Regions from separate parts of the Homo sapiens genome. Here region 1 is linked to region 2. The links come from fine-mapping of genetic effects on gene expression. Tissue or cell type: spleen. Region 2 holds a variant in brackets; the other region holds the start of a gene. All regions are shown on one strand. Distances are between the middles of the regions.

Region 1 (11,073 bases), 970 kb before region 2:
TGGCCTCTAAGGATTTCCATTTTAGAATGGGTAGAACACTCAGAGCCTTCCTAACGTTGCTGCCATGCATCTACCTTGGCATGAATGAAAATGAATCAAGCCAGAGGTCATCAGCAGCCTAACCTTGTCCAAAAAAATCGATACAGGTTTCCCCATGTTATGTAATATGTGAGCTCCTGAAAAGTCAGAGTTAAATCAATTTTCTCACAGCTGACCATGTACTGAGCATCCAGCATCAAGCTGAGCATCATGCCGAGGCTACGCAGGACACACACGCATGCACGATCAGTGGTGATTCTGGCTTTCAGGCCTCATCATAAATGCACCAGAGGAGCTTGTGGATGGCATCGCTTGGTAGAGACCCTTTAATATGGGAAGAATGACTTCCTAATTACCATCCTATTTATTTAGATATTTGTATTTGTCGATTTGGAGTTTCATAGTACGGTCTTTTTGTTTTTTTTTTCAATTCTCACATATAGCAAGTCCTTAATGAATATTTGTTGACTAAATGAATACTGTTCAAAATCAAGGCACACCCATACCTGATAATCTCCCACATTTGGGTCTGGCTGGATGATCCAAAAGTACTTTCCACATATTTATACTTCCTCATTTCCATTAAGAACTGTGTAGGGGAGGAGGCCAGGCTCAGTGGCTCGCACCTGTAATCCCAGCACTTTAGGAGGCTGAGGCTGGAGGACTGCTTGAGCCCAGGAGTTCGAGACCAACCTGGGCAACATGATGAAACCCCATCTCCACAACAAAACTAAACAAAACTAAACTGTGTAGGAGAGGAAAACCAGGCCTTTATTACGCCCATTTCACAGGTGAGACAACCGAGGCTCATTAAGAGCCACTGGCTTCCTCAAGTGAGTATCTGAAAAGTCTGAGGGAATTTCAGTCCAGATTTTACCAGTAGGGAAGCCCTCCGCAAAGAAATCAAGACAATTTTAGCTGCCTTGTGCCTCGGCCTGCCTTATCTCAGGCCTTGCCAAAGGTCCATGTTCATCTTCCCCGGCATGCAGGCTGGGAGCCCCACAAGCCCCTGCTTTCCCCGACACTCCACCTCCCATTACCTCTCCAGGGCCAGACGTCTAACTCCGAAATCTGTGCCCTGCTCTCCAGCCCCTGTCTCTGTCTGAAGTCCAGTGTTTCCTCTCCATCTGTCATCTCAGGCTCTCCTTGTGGGTGACCCTCTGCCCTGGAGTGCATTTATTTGGTTGACACTTACTAAGCCCCCTCTTTTTTTTTTTTTTTTTGAGATGGAGTCTTGCTCTGTTGCCCAGGCTGGAGTGCAGTGGCACAATCTCAGCTCACCACAACCTGTGCTCCCCGGGTTCAAGCGATTCTCGTGCTCCAGCCTCCAGAGTAGCTGGGACTACAGGTGCCTGCCACCACGCTTGGCTAATTTTTGTATTTTTAGTGAAGACGGGATTTCACCATGTTGGCCAGGCTGGTCTCAAACTCCCGACCTCAAGTGATCCACCTGCCCGGCCTTTCCAGAGTGCTGGGATTATAGGCGTGAGCCACTGTGCTTGGCCTAAGTCCCTCTTTTATAACGGACACTGGGCTGGGGGCTGGATGAACACGAATGAACAAGACACAACCCCTGCCCTCTGGGAACACAGTTGCGTGGAAAGGGTCACGAGAGATAGTTGGACAGAGGACTCGACAGCATTTGGTAGGACACTGAGATCTGAGTGCAGGCGCTGGGGAAATCCGGATGGTGTTTTGAAGGATGAGTAAGAGTTCCTTTCCTTGGAAAAGGAAGAGAGGGAATTCCAGTGGGAGGGAACAGCGCAGGCTGAAGTGCAGAGATGTGAATTGGCAGATAGATCAGTTTGGGGCCCTGCCAGGAGCTGGCATGGGTAGGACAGAGGGGAGGAGGCAAGAAAGGTGAGGCTTGGAAGGGAAGTGGGCCTGGAAGGTGAGGCTCGGAAGGGAAATGGGGCTTGGAAGAGGGCCTACTTTTCCATACTGTGGTGTTTGGATTTTATCTGGGGGTGGGGTCCCTGCAAGGTTTTAGGTCAGTGCCTTGCGTGATCACATTTGGATTTTAGGAAAGTGACTCCACAGCTGTGTGGGGGATGGATCAAGGGGATACACGACATACTGTGTTTTGTGCATCACTGTGTCTCCAGCACTTAGTGGGTGCTGACACCAAGTAGGGGCTCAATGTTTGTTGAAGGGATGAATGAGTGGCTCCATTGAGAACTTACTGCAGGAATCCAGGGGAAGGTTGTGAACTAGGATTATGGGAGTGGGGAGAGGGCCGAACGTGGGAAAGGGAGAAGGTTTCTATTAGACAGGGTCTGGGCAGGAAAATGGAACTCAGGCCAGGAAGTTCAGTGGATAGAATTTATGTAGAAAACTAGTTACAAAGGCATAGAAAGGGCAGAAACAAAACAGAACAAAACATGGTGCTGGGGGCCACCCAGAGATTAGCAACATCTGGAAGCTGCTGCCACCCTACGGCTGGAGGGACAAAGGTGGTTTCACCTGCTCCCAGAAGCCAGAGTCCCTGGAGTGAGCTCGGACCATGAAGAAGGGGTGCCACAGGTTGAACTCCCCAGGAAGCTGACTCTGAGATGCAGGCCAGCCTGCAAGAGGATTCTGTGGGAAGAGGGGGAGGAAGGAACAGGATTGGGCAGAGGAAAAAGCTGGGCTGTGATGCAATTTTAGGAAGGCCTAAATCTGGGAGCTCTGAAGCTGGGATGCCTTGGACAGGTGGCCCAAGTTGGGACAAGGGGACCTTTATTCTTCCATGATCAGCAGTCACTGGATGTGGACCCTTGGGAAGGGAGTGTGACCTCCGGCAAAGTGGCTCTTCTCAGTCAAGGCAATTTCCAAAACAGCTCCTGATATGCACTCCCAGCAGCCAGGGAAACAGATCCTCCAGTTGGGCAGCGGGATCTGGGGAGCACATCGCAGCAGCCATGCGGAGTGGCTGTCTCCTCTGGAGCCCCAGAGGAGGTGTGGCCAGCTGCCTGAAGCAAATAGTAGCCTGGGCATTCTCTTCTTCCTCCTGCCTTCTAATCTCCCTCCCGGGCCTCCCACTGGGCAAACTGGGCTGGAAGCCAATGGGCAAGTGAGCCTGGGAAGTAGAGCTGGTGAGGGCCAGCCCCAGGGAGCTGAACAGTGCGGGGTAGGGCCCGGCACTGAGAGCTCACAGGTCTAGGGTGGGCTGTGGGAGAAAGGAAAAAGGCAGATTCAAAGGGGAACCCACGATGAGTGCCTGTGATCCTGGCCCCTGGGTGGGCGGAGCTGGGTGGATGGTGGCATGCCTGTCTCTCAGAAGAGGCAGAGAAGGAGGCACACACCTGGGAGGAAGATGCTCAGGGGCCATGCTGAGTTTGCCATTCAAGTGCTGGCAGCTCAGTGGATCTTACATTCTGGCACAGAATAATCTTCAAAGACAAAAAAAATGTAGGTGGGGCCGGGCGTGGTGGCTCAAGCCTGTAATCCCAGCACTTTGGGAGGCTGAGGTGGGTGGATCACTTAAAGTCAGGAGTTCAAGACCGGCCTGGCCAACATGGTGAAACCTCGTCTCTACTACAAATAAAAAATTACCCAGGCATGGTGGCGGGCGCCTGTAATCCCAGCTACTGGGAGGCTGAGGCAGGAGAATCACTTGAACCCGGGAGGCAGAGGTTGCAGTGGGCCGAGATTGGGTCACTGCACTCTAGCTTAGGCGATGGAGGGAGACTCTGTCTCAAAACAAACAAACAAACAAACAAACAAACAAACTAACTAACTAACTCTTCGGTGGGCTCTCCTCTGGGCACAGGACCAAGTGCAACATGGCTTTCAAGCCCTTCCCAACACTGTCTCAGGAGACCTCTGCAGGCTCAGCTCCCACCACCCTTGTAGTTTCTCTGGCCTGCTAGCCCTGCCCTTCCGCACACCCCTTGTCTGGCCCGGCCTCCCACCATTCATACTCTCCCTTGAGCAACTCCCTCACAGTCCCTGCACATCTCCCAGGTCAAATGCCTTCTAGAGTCCTCCCTAACTCCTGTTTTCCCCTACAAATTGTAATCTCTCCTTCCAGTCGCCATAAATGCTTAGGAGCTTGACCGCACCACCCCTTATGAGCTACTTAACCGCAGCAAGTAACTTCATCTTTCGTTCTTTTTTTAAATTATTATTATTATTATTTTTTATTTTTTGAGACTAAGTCTTGCTTTCTCCCCAAGGCTGGAGTGCAGTGGCACGATCTCGGCTCACTGCAACCTCTGTCTCCCAGGTTCAAGTGATTCTCCCACCTCAGCCTCCCCAGCAGCTGGGATTACAGGCGCGCGCCACCACACCCAGCTAATTTTTGTACTTGTAGTAGAGACGGGGTTTCACCATGTTGGCCAGATTGGTCTTGAACTCCTGACCTCAGGTGATCTGCCCACCTCAGCCTCCCAAAGTGCTGGGATTACAGGCGTGAGCCACCACGCTTGGCCTAACTTCATCCTTCTAAGGCTTCAGTTTCTTCCCTGTGAAATGGGGCAAAAAATAACCCCATAGTGTGGTTGGAAAACTGAAGTAATACATATAAAGTGCTAAGAACAGTGTCCGACACATTGTAGGCCTCGATTCATGTTAGCTATTATTATTATTTTAATTTTCACCTTCTAATTCCCAGCGTTTAGCTCTTGGTAGATGCTTAATTAGTATTTGTTGAATGAATGGAGAATTAATAAGGAAAATGATTTATTCCTGGGGCTCGACCTGGTTTTAGAAAATTAAGTATTTAGCAGAAGGACAAGTAAGGGCTCTCTAATAATAGTTATATTGTTGGGTGCCCAGGGACTCCAAACTGACCTGGTTCACTCAAGAAAGAAAAATGACAGATTCCAAGTTGTTTCACGCGCAACTTTGATGCTCTTCCAAATCACACGGAATGAATGCATGCGCACCACCAGGCAGGGCTGCCCGGGTGCAGGCGGTATCTCTGGCAGTGGCCAGAATGACTTCCACCAGCCTACCCACCTACCCAGGTTGGCACTCAGGCCCTAGACCCTGCGGCGCGTGTGGAGGCTGGGGAGGGAGTAGGAATCCGGCGGCAGCCACGTGGGCCCCTTCCGCCCGCTCCCCACATCCTTTGTTTCCCACCGGCCCTGGCTCAGGAAGCTCTTTCTGCGAGTCACCGCGAAGGGGCGGCCCGGGAGCCTGGAGAAGCTATTTCCGTGCAATCCGGGCGGGCGGCAGGCGCGGGGGGGTTGGGGGGGCGTGGAGGTGGAGGCAGCGCAGAAGGCCCAGTGTTTGCTTTTATTTCCTCCAACAGAAGGTTCTATTTGTGGAAGCGAACAGACGCTGGGGATTAGAGCTGGGAGGGGGCAGGAAAAGGGAAAAAAAAAAGCCACATCCACTACCACGCACAGGTCTTCCCCGGAACTACCGCGTGGGGGTGAATGACTGATTCTGGAATTCATCACCTCCCTATCCCCCTCCTTCCTCCGGCTGCAGCCGGGCCTCGGCGGCGCCCACGGCTCCAACCGGAGCTCCCCAGGCGCTGGGCGGTGGGGGGATCCCCGGGGCGAAAGGCGTCGCCGCGGGGCTGCAGCGAGCGGCGGGTGCAGAGAACCGTGGTGCGCGCTCCCGCCTCGCGCCCGCAGCCCATTGTGCTTACTGTGAATGAGGCGCGCGCACCAATCAGCGGTCGCTTCGCTCCCCGCAGCCCCGTCCCTCCCGCCCACTTCCCCGGGCCCTTACGTCACGGGAACTTTTCCTCCGCCCCCTCCTTCGGCTTCTCCGCTGAGCTGGGGGCCTGCGGGAGGGCGCGCGCGCCGCCTCCTGCCCAGCCCCTCCCAGCCCTGGGGGCGTGTGCGCGCGTCCAGGCCGGCCCGGGACGCACCACCTGCGCCCGAGCGCGCGCTGCCCGGAGCATCCCCAGCCCTAAGTCCACCCCCATTCCCCCCACCTCCTACTCCCTCTCCCCTTCCCCCAGTCTCCTCCCTCCGCTCCGGAGACTGCTCGCTGGGCGGCGGGGCCGGAGTCGTCGCAGCCACCTCATTGCACAACCCGGCTTCCCAACTGTTTACACAGCCCGGCCTGTGAGTGTGTGTGTATACAGCGTGAGTCACCAGGAGGCGGAGGAGGTGGAGGAAAAGGAGAAGGAGGAGTGCACTGGCCGGGATCGGTGCAGCGCTCACACTCACTCACAGTCACTCTCTCTGAGCGCGTCTCGCTCGCTCTCATACACGCCCGGAGCCCAGGAGCGCTCAGGATCCCGAGCGCCGCGAAAAAGTTCCCCCGGCTTTTGCTGGAGACTCATCGCTTTGGGAAGTGCATTTGCTTCGTGGCTCCGCCGAGCCTGCTGAATCCTGTCCTCGCGGCTCGGGACCCCGGGATCGCTGACCGCTGCCGCCGCCGCCTCTGCCTCCCGGACTATCGGCAGCCTCGGCAACAATAGTGGCGGCCGCCCCCAGCGAGGCTCCGGGAGCCCTTGCCTGCGGGGGTCCGGGGACTCGAGCCGGCCTCCGCCTCCCGGACGCACAGCCAGCGTGGTCCCCGCGTGCAACGCGAGCGCCGGGGAGTGGCTCCTGCTTTGCCCCTCGTGGGGGCCGAGCCAAGACCAGTCTGCAAACTCCATCCCGCCGGCTGGAAGAAGTCGCGGAGCCGGCACCAAACCCGCAGCGTCTTCCCGCGCGGATCCCGGGACTTAAAAAGCCGGGGCCACCCCGGCCCAGGACGGGATGCGGGTCGGTCCGGTGCGCTCTGCCATGAGCGGCGCCTCGCAGCCCCGCGGCCCGGCCCTGCTCTTCCCAGCCACCCGAGGCGTCCCGGCCAAACGCCTGCTGGACGCCGACGACGCGGCGGCTGTGGCGGCCAAGTGCCCGCGCCTCTCCGAGTGCTCCAGCCCCCCGGACTACCTCAGCCCCCCCGGCTCGCCCTGCAGCCCGCAGCCCCCGCCTGCCGCTCCGGGGGCCGGCGGAGGCTCCGGGAGCGCGCCGGGGCCCAGCCGCATCGCCGACTACCTGCTGCTGCCCCTAGCCGAGCGCGAGCATGTGTCCCGGGCGCTGTGCATCCACACTGGACGCGAGCTGCGCTGCAAGGTAGGCGCTCCCGGGCCAGGACCCGGCTGGGGTCGGGGGCGCGGGACGGGGTGGTAGGCAAAGGTGCTTGGGGTCCGGCCAACGCTTGGGCTGGGCACAGGGCGGATCAGTAGATTGGGTCAGATAAGACGCCATTTGACCAGGTTCACGTTTTTGTGGATCGAGGGGTTTCCCATGGAGTGATATAATGGGGGCGCCTAGAGGAAGTGCAGTGTTCAGTGGCTTTCTCTATCTGTTCCTTTCCTCAGCGCCCAGTGTAGCGCGTGGCGTTCCATATAAGTTGTGGAATTGAAATGGATTCCAGGGCCATGCCATTCCCCTTCTCTCATTCTCCTCGCTCTCCACCCCCCCTCCCCCGCCAATGTCCTGGAAGGACGCCCTTTAGTGGGTGCCTCCTAGGAGCTTGGAGCAGCTGGCAGCTCTCTTGCCGGGCTTGCACGGCACCCGGGCTCAGTTGTAGGTGGTAAGGGGGCTGGAAGACTGTGTCCGGCTCCTGCCTTGGGGATTCCGAATTGAATCCGCGCTGAGACTAGAACACGCCCTCCCAAGGGAGCAGTCCCAGAGTCATCCACCCGAGGCGGAGGAATCTGCTCGGAGTAGAAATGTTGAAAAGCCCACACCGGCCAGGAACCCTCGCTTCGATTCACTTTATTTTCCAGCCAGCGATTTTCCTTTGAACATAGGGATCCCATCCAGGAGGAGGAGACACAGCTCCTAGAAACAGGATCCGCCGGGTCCTCCTCCTGCGCGGGTAGACGCAGAACGTTCCCACAGTCTACTTTATGCGAGCGTGGCACCCCTGCTTGAGGCACCCCAGAGCACCCTCGGGCCGCTCCTTTTCACCCGAAAGATAGGATCACCCCCCAGTTAAGTCGCTTCTGGGTTTTCCGCAACTCACCTGACACTCCCAACACCCCGACCCCGTCCCGGGGCTCGCTGCTGCCACCTACTGCCCAACCCGAATGAAATTTCAGACGCATGATCAAGCCCAGTTTAATAGGGAGGAAAAAAAAACCTTTTCTTCTCCATGACTGGGGCTAAGAGCTGTTCTGGGACAAGCATGTATGTGTGTGTGGTGGGATGGGATGGGATGGGGTGGGAGGAGGGGGCAGCAGGGGATTTTTCTAGCTGGTGCCAGAGCAGCCAGGCCTCTTAGAGGTGGGGTGAGTCTGGCCATTGTGCAACCCCTTCCAGTTCCTCTGAGCAGATAATAGCTGAATCCAGATGGTGACAGCCCGTGTGTCACCGTTTCCAGTTGAGTCTAGGATATGAGTAACTGGACTGAACAAAAGGCCTTTAAAGAGACCAGCCAGCTTCCTAGAAGAGAGGAGATGCTACTCATTTCTAGGGGTGGGGTCGGGTGTGGGGGGATAAACAAACAAGTGGAAAACCCATTCGCAGGATTCCATACCCTTCCTGTGAGAATTGTAACTCAAGGCTGCTTACACTTGAGTCGGACTGTAGGCAGGTTGCTTAAGGCTGCATTGTCCCAGCCTCCCCCTCCAAGTCATCTGTTCCTTCTGATTAATGACAGCTCTGCATGTTCTCTGGCCCCTGCTTCCCCTTGGAGGCTGCAGAGTCACCACATTCTGTGCCCTTTCTGTGTTGAGCACTTTGGGTCTGCAGGAGGCACATGCACGTCCAGGGACTGCTTTTCAGCTCCTGGACAGGCCAGGGGCTTCCTTCTATCAGCCACTCAACTAGTGTGGCCTGCAAACAGGAAAGGGCCACAGAGGGTGGGGGGTTTGCTTAGCTCTCAGGAGCTGACAGAAGATGGGAACATGTACAGGAGACAGTTCTTTCAAATCATCTGTGTGAAAGCGGGTAACCCTTTGGGTATTTGCAAGTCTAGAGCTTTAGGTGTTACTGGTTTTAAAGGTGTCAGGGGCAGCTGGGGCTGCGTAAGGTAAGGTGGCAGAGGAAAGGAGTAGGTGAATGGAACTTACTCACATCCTAAGCCCACAGGTTGAGAACTTCTGTTCAGCTCCCTCAGGGGTTTGGGAGGCTGCCTTTGCTTTTCTAGCCCCCTAAACGGGCCCCCCTTCTCTCTACAGGTGTTTCCCATTAAACACTACCAGGACAAAATCAGGCCTTACATCCAGCTGCCATCGCACAGCAACATTACTGGCATTGTGGAAGTGATCCTTGGGGAAACCAAGGCCTATGTCTTCTTTGAGAAGGACTTTGGGGACATGCACTCCTATGTGCGAAGCCGGAAGAGGCTGCGGGAAGAGGAAGCCGCCCGGCTCTTCAAGCAGATTGTCTCCGCCGTCGCCCACTGCCACCAGTCAGCCATCGTGCTGGGGGACCTGAAGCTTAGGAAGTTCGTCTTCTCCACGGAGGAGAGGTGAGCGGCCGCCACAGCTTCTCCTGTGGCCTTTTGGAACCAAAGCGGAGGTGCAGGTCATGTAGTTAGGTGCTGTGTGTTGGTGCAAAACAAAGTCAAGGGCTCATATGTCCCAGATTTAGTATTTAGAGCTTCTGTTCCTGAGGAGTCACAGCCAAGGTTGGTTTATTCTGCATTCTCTTGGACGGGGCCTGGGGACACCGTGGCGCTTCTATGGGATGGCAAGTGTTGACAGGGTGCTCTTCCTCTCCTACCCCAGGATCAGGTTCATTCCCCATTGTTGTCAGAAAGGTCAGTTGTCTGGGGTACAAATATTAAACTGCCCTTTACGATATTGCCTTCTGAAGGAAGTGTTCAAATCTTTGCTTATGCCAAGTGCTGTTTTGTACCTGGAAGGTTTCACAGAGCTAGTGAGACTGTCATATATGCAGAATTCCACCCTCTTGTTTCACACAGCATTCCTCTCCCATCCCAGTCCAGGTTCTCTGTAACATCACATTCTCTGGTGACTTTTTAGACAGCTTGTTTGGATCCGTCTTCAGAAAATAGCCACATTGAATAGTAAATGGAAGTTGGTTAGGATGGATTGCTAAATATAGATCATAGCTTACCTCATAAAGAACAAGATGAGCTTGATAAGAGAGTAATGAGGCATTAAGATTCAAAGCTGAGGTTTCAGCTAGAGAATTCAGGAAGCCGCATGAGATAGACCACACTTGATTTTAAGAGCCAGCCACATCCCTTGTGGAAAGATTACAAGCAGTAAGGCTGTAACATTGTAGAGGTGAGAGTGAGTTAGTTTGTTGTAAGAAGTGGGCTTATCTCACCTGTGCATTTTTACCTTTGACTCCAGAGCATATGAAACAGTACAGGGTTGAGCTGTCATAAAGCATGACTTTGTATCTGACCTCGCAATAATTATTGGAACACACTGATTAGCAAAGAAAAGCAAACTGTTGGCAATGAAGAAGTTTCTAATTCCTGGAACATGCTCCTTTGATATGGTGATGCATTTTCTGAAACATGCCTTACACACCTCCTTACTAGCTTTTGAAATCTGCATTGCACAGGCGAATATCATGGGCATGGGGTTTGGCAACCCGGGGGTTAAGCAATGTCAGGCTGACGCTATTCGTGTAACCAGCACAGGTGCAGGGTTTTAGTGCTGTAGCAGCCAATCAGGGGCAGACAGTGTGGGTTGAGTCATATTTTCCGTTTACAGAACCAATGGGTATTTTACATAACGACAGGGAGGTCACGCTGAGGACATACTGAAGTTAGCACATGTATACTACACTCCAGGGAACAGGAAGGCAGAAAAAAAAAAAAACAGACCTTTGAGAGGAAAAGGAATTGACCCATCAGCCAGTACCAAATGTTTGCATTTAACTTCACAAGTGACTTACTGAAACGGGTATTTCAGAGAAGCAGGCAGAGACAGGGTGTCACTGGATATCAGAGCTTCCCCACCACATGGCTTTGAGCTTTGGGGGATCCAGGAGACTTGGGTGGCTGGTTCTGAATAAGGAGGCACCTGCAGCTTCATAAGAGAGCCTTTGACTGAAGGTGTTTTAGACTTTCGTTGTTACCTGAACAGAGACCCCCCCTGTAGAATACATATGCTCACATGTTGATGTGCCATCCCAGGGGGAGTGTGTGTCCCTGTGTAAGAATTTCAGG
Region 2 (11,073 bases):
CCGTGGTATTTCAATAATCCCAGCTCACTGTATAGTATAATAAGGCTCTAAGTCAATTTTTAGAGGGTACTGCATGATAGCAGAGTGTTTATTACCAGCGCAGAAGATACAGTATGGTATAGGATAGAAGGAATACAATGCAGTTCTATAAATATTGAGAATTTACTATGTACCAGTGCTGTGCAATGAACTGGGTCCCCCTAAAATGTATGTGTTGGAGCCCTAAGCCCACAGTGTGACTGTATTTGAAGACAGGGCTTATTTGGAGGTAGTAAAGGTTAAGTGAGGTCATAAGGGTGAAGCCTCAATTTCCTAGGGCTGGTGTCCTTATAAGAAAAGGAGGAGGCCAGGTATGGTGGCTCACATCTGTAATCCTAGCACTTTGGGAGGCTGAGGTGAGGCGAGAGGATCTCTTGAAGTCAAGAGTTCAAGACCAACCTGGCCAACATGGTGGAACCCCGTCTCTACTAAAAATACAAAAATTAGTCTGGGCACAGTGGTTCAAGCCTATAATCCCAGCACTTTGGGAGGCCAAGGCAGGCAGATCACTTGAGGTCAGGAGTTGGAGACCAGCCTGGCCAACATGGTGACACCCCGTCTCTACTAAAAATACAAAAATTAGCTGGGCATGGTGGCGGGGGCCTGTAATCCCAGCTACTCAGGAGGCTGAGGCGGGAGAATTGCTTGAACCCAGGAGTCGGAAGTTGTAGTGAGCAGAGATCACGCCACTGCATTCCAGCCTGGGTGACAGAGAGAGACTCCCTCTCAAAAAAAAAAAAAAAAAAAAAAAAAGAGAGAGAGAGAGAGAAGGAAACACCAGATCTCTCTCTCTCTCTCTCTCTCTCTCTCTCTCTCTCTCCACCCACAGTGAAAAGAGGCCACGTGAGGACACAGAAAGAAGGCAGCCATCCACAAGCCAGAAAGAGGAGAGAAGCCTCACCAGAAACCAACCCTGATGGCACCTTGGTCATGGACTTTTAGCCTCTAGAACTGCGTGAGAATAAATGTCTGTGGTATAAGGCACTCAATCTGTGGCATTTTGCTAGGGCAGCCTGAATAGATGAATGCAGCCAGGCACACTGTTCTAAGCATGAGCAACAGGGCAGTGAGCAAACAGATGAGGTCTCTATGCTCACAGAGCTTACATGCTGGTAGCGGGAGAGACTCGTCCCCTGGATCCTTCCACCCAAAGGTAGTAGTGGCTTCTTGCTTTTTCTGGGTGTCAAACTTCTGGGTTCCTTCTCTCTCGTTTGATTTATCACACTCTTTCATTCCTATGTAACACATTCAATGTAGTAAATTTCCTTCTTCGAAAATACTTGAAGTGCTTTCTATTGCCTGGCTGGACCTAAGTAATAAAAGTCTATTTTCCACTGTGATTTCTGAGGATCACAGTATAATTCTGGTACCCATAAAACATGCAAATAATGCTTCATTCATTTTTCTTTTCTTTCTTTCTTTCTTTTTTTTTGAGATAGGGTCTCACTCTGTCACCTAGGCTGGAGCGAAGTGTTATAATCATGGCTCACTGTAGCCTCAAACTCCTGGGCTCAAGTGATTCTCCCATCTTAGCCTTCTGAGTAGCTAATTTTTGTAGAGACGGGATTTCAGCATGTTGCCCAGGCTGGTCTCAAACTCCTGGGCTCAAGAAATCCACATGCCTCAGCCTCTCAAAGTGCTGGGATTACAGGCGTCAGTCATTTATTCTTTTATTTATTTATTTGAGACAGAGTTTCGCTCTGTTACTCAGGCTGGAGTGTAATGGCGTGATCTCAGCTCACTGCAACCTCCGCCTGCTGGTTCAAGCGATTCTCCTGCCTCAGCCTCCCAAATAGCTGAGATTACAGACGTGCACCACCACGCCTGGCTAATTTTGTATTTTTAGTAGAGACGGGGTTTCGCCATGGTGGTCAGGCTGGTCTTGAACTCCTGACCTCAGGTGATCCACCTGCCTCTGCCTCACGAAGTGCTGGGATTACAGGCGTGAGCCACCACACCCAGCTCATTTATTCTTGTTAGCTTAATATTCACAACACTACTCTCCCTCCTTTCCCTCCCCAGGTGTTCAGTCCTACAACTTGTCTTCCTGAAACTCAACAACTCTTCTTCAAAGCTAATTAAAATAATGTCATTAAAACAAATTGAAAATATTGGATTGCTAACTGACGCCAATGCAAATGTCTCTGGCAAGGACTTTTAAACATATTACTATGCAAGTAATACAGTGATTTTTCAGAAGTCCCACTTATTTTCTGGTCTTTTCACTCTTGGTTTGTGTAAGCAATATGAGTATCTGTGCAGGCTGGTTTTATGTTCTTATCATTAGAGTTTCTTGGTTTTACATGTGGTGCTGACAGATGAAGTCCTCTGTGATTTATAAACGGGACTTCACTGCTTTTTTCTGGAACTATGAGTTTGATCAAAGCTGAGCTTGAGCTCAAGATAAACAAGAAAAAATATTGTTGGGTAGTCATTTTCAAACAGAAGTTGCCAGCAGGAGTCCCCTGGGCCTATTGCAATAAGTAGATTTTGTTTGGCATACACATACTTTTATTTTTTTAATTGGATATGTTACCAAAATATGAAAATTAGACACTTTACATATAAAACTCTCAACTTTTCTTGCCTATTAAAAGGTGGAAATATGTACACAGGCATTCCTTTTCCTACAAGGTGACAACATTTCTTCCTAATTTAGAATAAAGCATTTGGTCTCAAGATCACTGAAGTCACAATCATTTACTTCGGCTGTCTGGACCCTGCAGCCATTTGAGTTTTTGCCTCCTTTTATGGAATGTGACGTGAGGGAGAAATAAGTCTATATAGTGTTAAGCCACTGAGACTTTGGGATTTATTTGTTATTACTGCAGTGTAGCCATACTATCTGACTAATGCCTGCAGCTTTTCTGTTGTCACTGGTGCAAGCTAGATGGATAAAGGAACATACTCTTGAGGTACCTACCAGGTTGTATTAGTCATGGTGCTCTAGAGAAATAAAGCCAAGGCCGGGTGCAGTGGCTCACACTTGTAATCCCACACTTTGGGAGGTCGAGGTGGGTGGATCACTTGAGGTCAGGAGTTCGAGACCAGCCTGGCCAACATGGTGAAACCCTGTCTCTACTAAAAATAAATAAATAAATAAATAAATAAAATTAGCCAGGCATGGTGGCAAGTGCCTGTAGTCCCAGCCACTTGGGAGGCTGAGGCAGGAGAATTGCTTGAACCCAGGAGGTGGAGGTTGCAGTGAGCCAAGATCACGCCACTGCACTCCAGCCTGGGCAACAGAGCAAGATTCTGTCTCATAAAAAAAGGAGAGAGAGAAACAATACCAATAAGATACACACACACAGTTGATCTTTTAACAAGATGGGTTTGAGCTGTGCAGGTTCACTTATATGTGGATTTTTAAAAAATAAATATATGGCAAACATTTTTGGAGGCTTGCAACAATTTCAAAAAAAGTTGCCAAAACGTAGCCTAGAAATATCAAAAACTTAAGAAAAAATTAGGTCTCATGAATGCATAAAATATATGTAAATACTCATCTATTTTATCATTTACTACCATAAAATATGTACAAGTCTATTATAAAAAGCTAAAATTTGGCCCGGCGTGGTGGCTTACGTCAGTAATCTTAGCACTTTGGGAGGCGGAGGCAGGCGGATCACGAGGTCAGGAGATTGAGACCATCCTGGCTAACACGGTGAATCCCCGTCTCTACTAAAAATGCAAAAAATTAGCCAGGCATGGTGGCGGGCGCCTGTAGTCCCAGCTACTTGTGAGGCTGAGGCAGGAGAATGGCGTGAACCCAGGAGGCGGAGCTTGCAGTGAGCCGAGATCGCATCACTGCACTCCAGCCTGGGCGGCAGAGCGAGACTAGCCTCAAAAAAAAAAAAAAAAAAAAAAGCCGGGTGCGGTGGCTCACGCCTGTAATCCCAGCACTTTGGGAGGCTGAGGCGGGTGGATCACAAAGTCAGGAGATGGATACCATCCTGGCTAACACTATAAAACCCCATCTTTACTAAAAATACAAAAAATTAGCTGGCAGGAGAAAAGCATGAACCCAGAAGGCGGAGCTTGCAGTGAGCTGAGATCCCACCACTGCACTTCAGCCTGGGCAACAGAGCAAGACTCCCTCTAAGAAAAAAAAAAAAAAAACAGAAAAACTAAAATTTATCAAAGCTTATGCACATACAGACTGCACATGGTGCTATTCCCAGTCCAGAGAAATGGAAGTAAACCTAAGGATACAGTATTAAATTACAACTGCATAAAATTAACTGTGGCATACACCACACTACTGTAATAATTTTGTAGCCACATCCTGTTGCTATTGCATGTGCTCAAGTGTTGCGAGTATCCCCTTAAAACACTGTGTGATGCTAATCATCTCCGCATGAGCGGTTCCTTTCTCTAGTAAATTGCCTATCTCAGTAAAAGGTGATCTCTAGTGTTTCTCACGTATTTTTCATCGTGTTTACTGCAATAGCGTAAACCTTGAATAACACCATGGGACCCATACAAAGTGCCAGTAGCGATGCCGGAAGTGCTCCCAAGAAGCAGAGAAAAGTCCTGACATTACAAGAAAAGATTGAATTGCTTGATATGTACCATAAATTGAGGTCCGCAGCTGCAGTTGCTGCCACCGCAGACAATTCATTCATCTTGTAAACAGACAATATAAACTGAGGGTATCGATAAATACAATATGGTACTATAAAGGTATTTTCTCTGCCTTATAATCTTCTTAATAACATTTTCCTTTCTTTAGCTTACTTAAGAATACAGTATATAACATATATATTAATCACAAAATATGCATTAATCAACTTTTTGTGATAAGGCTTTCAGTCAGCAGAAGGCTACTAGTGGTTAAATTGGGAGAAAATCAAAAGTTATACATGAATTTTTGGCCAGGCGCGGTGGCTCACAC[C/T]TATAATCCCAGCACTTTGGGAGGGTGAGGTGGGCAGATCACTTGAGGTCAGGAGATCGAGACCAGCCTGGCCAACATGGTGAAACCCCATCTCTACTAAAAATACAAAAATCAGCTGGGTATGGTGGTGCACACCTGTAGTGCTAGCTACTCGGGAGGCTGAGGCAGGAGAATTGCTTGAACCTGGGAGGTGTATGTTGCAGTGAGCCGAGATTATGCTACGGCACTCTAGCCTGAGAGACAGAGCGAGACTATGTCTTAAAAAAAAAAAAAAAAAAAAGAAAGTTATACATGGATTTTTGACTTCATTGGAGGTGCCCCTAACCTTTGGTTTGTTTCAAAAGTCAACCGTGTGTGTGTGTGTGTGTGTGTGTGTGTGTGTGTGTAGATACACGTGAGGGAGAGAATTTTAAAGAACCGGCTTACACAAATGTGGAGGCTGGCAAGTCTAAAATCTAATGTGTAGGGCAGGCCAGCGGCATGGAGATTCACCTAAGAGTTGATATTGCAGTCTTGAGTCTGCAGTCTGGGAACCCAGGCAGAATTTCTGTGTTGCAGTCTAGAAGCAGAATTCCGTCTTCTTTGGGAAATCTTAGTCTTCGATCTTAAAGCCTTCAAATGACTGCATGAGTCCAATTACAGAAAGTAACCTGCTTACAGTCATCCCCGCTTAACCACAGTTTCACTTTCTGTGGTTTCAGTTACCTGTGGTCAACCATGGTCTAAAGACATTGAATGAAAATGTCTAGAAATAAACAGTTCATAAGTTGTACATTGTGCGCCATTCTGAGTAGCGTGATGAAATGTTGAGCCATCCTGCTCTGTCCTGGGAGGTGAATTGTCTTTTGTCCAGAATGTCCATGTTGTATACGCTACCTGCCTGACAGTTCCAGAGTAGCCAGCTCGGTTATCAGATCAGTTGTCACGGCATTGCAGCGCTCGTGTTCAAGTCATCCTTATTTTACTTTATAATGTCTCCAAAGCACAAGGGTAGTGATGCCGACAATTCAGACATGCCAAAGGGAAGCCAGAAAATGCTTTCCTTAAGTGAAAAGGTGAAAGTTCTAGACTTAGTAAGAAAACAAATTGTATGCTGATGTTGCTAAGATCTATGATAAGAATAAATCTTCTATCTATGAAATTATAAAGAAGGAAAAAGGGCCCGGCGCGGTGGCTCATGCCTGTAATCCCAGCACTTTGGGAGGCCGAGGTGGGGAGATCACGAGGTCAGGAGATAGAGAGGATCCTGGTGAACACGTTGAAACCTCATCTCTACCAAAAATAGAAAAAAATTAGCTGGGCAAAAAAAAGAAAAAAAAAAAAAAGAAGGAAAAAGAAATGTAGCCAGTTTTGCTGTTGTACCTCTCACTGCAAAAGTTAAGGCCACAGTGTGTGGTAGCTGCTTAATTAAGATGGAAAAGGCGTTAAATTTGTGAGTAGGATAATAAGTTTTTTTAGACAGAGAGAGAGACCACATTCACATAACTTTTATTATAGTATATTGTTTATTATTTATTATTATTGTTAATCTATTACTGTGCCTAAGTTATAAATCAAACATTATCTTAGGTATCCATGTATAGGGGAAAACACAGTACATATAAGATTTGGCGCTATCCAAGGTTTCAGGCATCCACTGAGGGTCTTCAAATGTATCCCCTATGGATAAAGAGGTCTAGTGTACCCAAAAATCTACTGACTATAAATGTTAATTGCGTCTAAAAAATAACTTCATCACGGAGACATCTAGATTAGTGTTTGAACAAACGACTGAGCATCATAGCCTAGTCACATTGACACATACAATTAACCATCACACAGGTTATAAACAAAGTCTTTGTCCTGTACATCTTCCTGATCCATCAACTTTTTCTCTTTGGTTAGAAATTTAAAACATTCTCTATGTTAAAAGAAATAGATATAATATGCAGAGGGATAGAAATAATTGCTCTTGGATTTGTAATACAAGACATGAAAACATTAAAGAAATCTTCAAAACATGTCTCCACTACTTAGTCCTTCGCCAGCCACCATCAGAGTGCGTAGGTGGGTATGTCTGCTACATTCATCTATGCGGTCCGGGTCTGGCTTCCATTGCCAGCATCAGCACAAAACCCCTTCTAACCTCTAGACAAGCCTGAAGCTCCTGCTACTTATCCTGTTGTAGCTCTTCCCCAAGCACAGACACATTTTGCCATGGACCAAGAAGAAATGAAGGTCAAGGATGCGATGAGGTTGTAGTAGTGGGAGGTGGGGAAAACGGAAAGAGGATCAAGCAGAGATTCAGTGCAGGAAGTAAAGGGCTCTAGGCACAACTCAGACTGGGGCAACTGCTCCCTTCTATTCAGAAATCTCACGCTGGGATTTTTCCTCTCTCCATGCTCGTCTCTCAACTAAGAGAAGACATGGTTTGCTTGGAAGACAGCCAAGTACAGTAATTAATGGTATAGATTTAAGCAGACAGGCCTGGATTTGGGTCCCAAACTAAGCCACTCACTACCTAGCTGACTTTTAAGGTACAATTTAACCCTCTCCGGGCCTCACTTTTTTTATTTGTTAAACAGGGATTGAAAGTAATATTTCCTTAACACACACACAAACACACACACGAAGAGACACAAGGATATTAGTAAAAGTGATGGATATATCTATGTCTAGTATCTTAATTGTGATGATGGTTTCATGGGTGTGTGCATATGTCTACACTCATCAAATTGTTTGCATTAAATACGTGCAGTTTGACTGGGCACGGTGGCTCACGCCTGTAATCACAGCACTTTGGGAGGCTGAGGCGGGTGGATCACCTGAGGTCAGGAGTTCGAGACCAGCCTGTCCAACATGGTGAAACCCCATCTCTACTAAAAATACAAAATTAGCCGGGTGTGGTGGTGGGCGCCTGTAATCCCAGCTGCTCAGGAGGCTGAGGCAGTAGAACCGCTTGAACCCAGGAGGCAGAAGTTGCAGTGAGCTGAGATCTTGCCACTGCACTCCAGCCTGGGCAACAACGGAAAAACTTCATCTCAAAAACAAACAAACAAAAAAAAGTGCAGTTTGTCGTATATTAATCATCCCTCAACAAACAAAGCTTTTTTTAAATAGTATTTTTTAAAGTTATGATGAGGACTCAAAGATATTACGCCAGAAAATGCAGATAAATTATAGTTATTACCACTTTTTTGTTTGTTCTAATAATGTTCCAAGTACTTTAGTTTGTTTTTCCTTCATTTGTTCTAACACTGTTCCATGTACTTTCTGTACATTTATTCAATCAATTCTTTTTTTTTTTTATTTGAGATGGAGTTTCACTCTTGTTGCTCAAGCTGGAGTGCAGTGACACAATCTCAACTCACTGCAACCTTCACCTCCCAGGTTTGAGAAATTCTCCTGCCTCAGCCTCCTGAGTAGCTGGGATTACAGGCATGCGCCACCACACCCAGCTAATTTTGTATTTTTAGTAGAGACGGGATTTCTCCATGTTGGTCAGGCTGGTCTCAAACGTGCGACCTCAGGTGATCTGCCAGCCTCGGCCTCCCAGCGTGCTGGGATTACAGGCGTGAGCCTCCACACCTGGCCTCAATCAATTCTTACAACAACCCTGAGCTAAGAACTTGGTATTGCTCCTTGTCTATTTAGAGCCTGTGTAGGGATCAGCAAAAGGCTCCCTTTCTTCAAGCCACTTTACTTCCATCTATTGGAAAACTGTCATAATAAACTATTCTTATTAGAACAAGATACAATATTGGCATCTGCTAGGAAGCTTTGGTAACAAAGATCCACCTCTCTCATGATGGGAACGGCAACCCCTTACATCTGGTGCCATTGTGCTATACATGGCTGTAGACATTATCGTTATTTCTATTTTACAGTTCAGGTGACTTCAGTTCATAGAGGTTAAGTCACTCAGCTGAGATTATACCAGGAGTCATCACTGTGCTTTGAGCCAAGGCAAACAGCACAGGGCCAGGTAGAAAGTAGGGTTTCATTAAACATTAATTCCTGTTTTTGTCCTTGTTAGAACTAACTCAAAAAGGCAAAGTGGAGTTTCTTACAGGTTTTTGCCTTAAAAGGAAAGTTATTCAAATGGCAGTGTAATGGATAAATTAGAAAAGATAATTGCATTACCTGTATGAATTGGTATGGCATTATTAGTTGGTTTGTGCAGCATAGTTTTGATTTGTATGTTATAATGCAGCCTTTGTGTGTGTATTAAAGTTTTGCTAATTATTAAATGCCTTGCGTCTGTGACACACTTTATCCTCTTCAAAGGGTCTCTCCATTTACTCCTGACAATAGCCCTGGATTGGAAAGGACACATGTTATCATTCAGATTTCACAGACGTAAAAAGGAGGACTGTCTGTCCAGCATGGTTCCCTATTCATGTGGTAAAGGGCTAGGCAGATGAATGTTAAATCTTTTATTCAGGAAGAACAATTAATTTCTGAAGAAATCGACTGGGGTCCAGGCCACAGGCCACCCATTAAATCCTCTCTTTAACTCATTGGACAAAACCCCTGAGGATACAAAGCTAAGAAGCAGCACCTAACCCAGAGAGCTCACATGGACTGGCTGGTGAGACAATGCTACCCTGAGCAGAGTGCTGAAATAGAGATGCACTCAAGTACACCAAGAAGCAGAGGGTCCAATTTCCAGCCCTGCTACTTACTAAGGCTGCAGTCTTGGGTGAGCTACTCAACTTTCCATTGCTTCAGTTGGTTTATTTCTAAATGAAAAACACAGTAACACGCCAAAGGGTTATTGTAAAGATTAAATGAGTTTATATATAAAAGCATTTAGATTAGCATGTGACATATAGCCCAGTACAAGGGATGTACTGTGTGAGTGTGTGTGTGTGTGTCTGTACAAACACACATATATCCTCCCCTCCCCTCCCCTGCCCTCCCCTCCCCTCCCTCCTTCCTTCCCTTCCTTCCTTCCTTCCTTCCTTCCTTCCTTCCTTCCTTCCTTCCTTCCTTCCTTCCTTTCTTCCTTCCGTAGAAGTGATCAGTTCTTTGTGATCTGTTAGGAAACAGAGAAGACATCAGGGGGAAGTAATTGCCCTCACTCTTCCTCAAAAGATTTCAGGAAAATAGTCCTTGACAGAAGGAACCAGAACACACAGTATGATTAACTTTTTTGAAGTATCAGGCAAATCTCCAGAAGGGAATGAGAACTTGCCAAAGTTACTGACAACCCTATGTTTTGGAAATACTAATTTTAGGGACATTCCTTTAAAACATGAAACACATTTTCCTTTTATTTTAGACAGAGAATGTGAAGCCTACTTAGCCTTTTCTTGATGACTCAGGGTCAGTCTTTTGTTTTTATTAATCTCACCTAAGAGCCACTCCTGAGGGGCTGCCTAAATCTACATGAGTAGCCTACTGAGGAGTCTGAGAGGGGCAGTTCCTCCATGACAAATGAAATGATGTGGCCTCTTACACCATCTCCAGGTTCTCATTCCAACAGCAAAGGAAACCTGCAGTGTCTCCTTGAACCTATTCCCACCACTGTCCTCGTTTGACTCTTTCCGTCCCTTGTGGACTTTGGTTCTTTGTCAGTTTCTATTTCTATTTCTTTTTGAGTCTTAGCAAAAGGACTTGGACCTTTTAGAAGAATGGGCCCTGTGCAAAACCAAAACACTGAAGAAGCTTGGAAGGGAAAAATAGATTAAATCATTGTGTCTCCTAGAGTGTGCCAATAAAAAATAAAGACTCATTTCTATTGAGTAGTTCTCACATTGTGTTAAACTGTTCTGAGGGTTATGAGCAACATAAGAAGTAAAAGCAATGGTCAACCTTTTTCTCTGTTGCTTGAGAGTTTGCAAAGCAGCCTAACTTCCAGGATCTTTAAACAGGAGCTCTCTAAATATCAACAGGTCTGCAAATGTTTAGAGCAAGTTAGGTGGAAATGCTAGGACTCAACCCTTCTGAGTTTAAATTTTGTTCCTTTTTATTTTTTCTATTATATCATCTCACCTGTCTGAAGCAGAGAAGTTTATAATCCACTTTGTGTATGGAGAACCTGTATCCACAAAAAGTTTAATAACACACCCCATTATTAAGATGCTTGATGGGGCTTTCTAGAGCCCTGCAGGAATGCAGAGGAAGGGGATCCTCTGAGCTAGACCGTGAAAGGCACC

Alleles and levels. Positions count from the first base shown, and alleles are read on the strand shown. Sizes are in standard deviations (SD) of each study's normalised expression.
With allele T in place of C in region 2, the expression in spleen of the gene that starts at base 6,142 in region 1 is higher (large effect, 1.2 SD a copy in GTEx).

The links. PIP is the estimated chance that this variant, and not a neighbour inherited with it, causes the effect.
Region 1: it holds the start of TRIB1, and the variant in region 2 is fine-mapped to the expression of TRIB1 in spleen (GTEx, PIP above 0.99).

What each region holds. Positions count from the first base shown.
Region 1 is chr8:125,424,217-125,435,289 of GRCh38, forward strand. TRIB1 (tribbles pseudokinase 1) reads left to right here and starts at 6,142. Exons shown (of 3, transcript NM_025195.4): 1 at 6,142-7,046; 2 at 9,101-9,393. The coding sequence starts at 6,687. RefSeq lists silencers at 5,315-5,934, 6,665-7,004 and enhancers at 6,295-6,344, 7,815-7,904.
Region 2 is chr8:126,396,160-126,407,232 of GRCh38, forward strand. No RefSeq gene overlaps it. Among named protein-coding and RNA genes, the nearest start is that of LRATD2, 160 kb to the right of the region's middle. RefSeq lists an enhancer at 4,134-4,635. The variant C/T (reference allele first, on the strand shown) is at 4,934.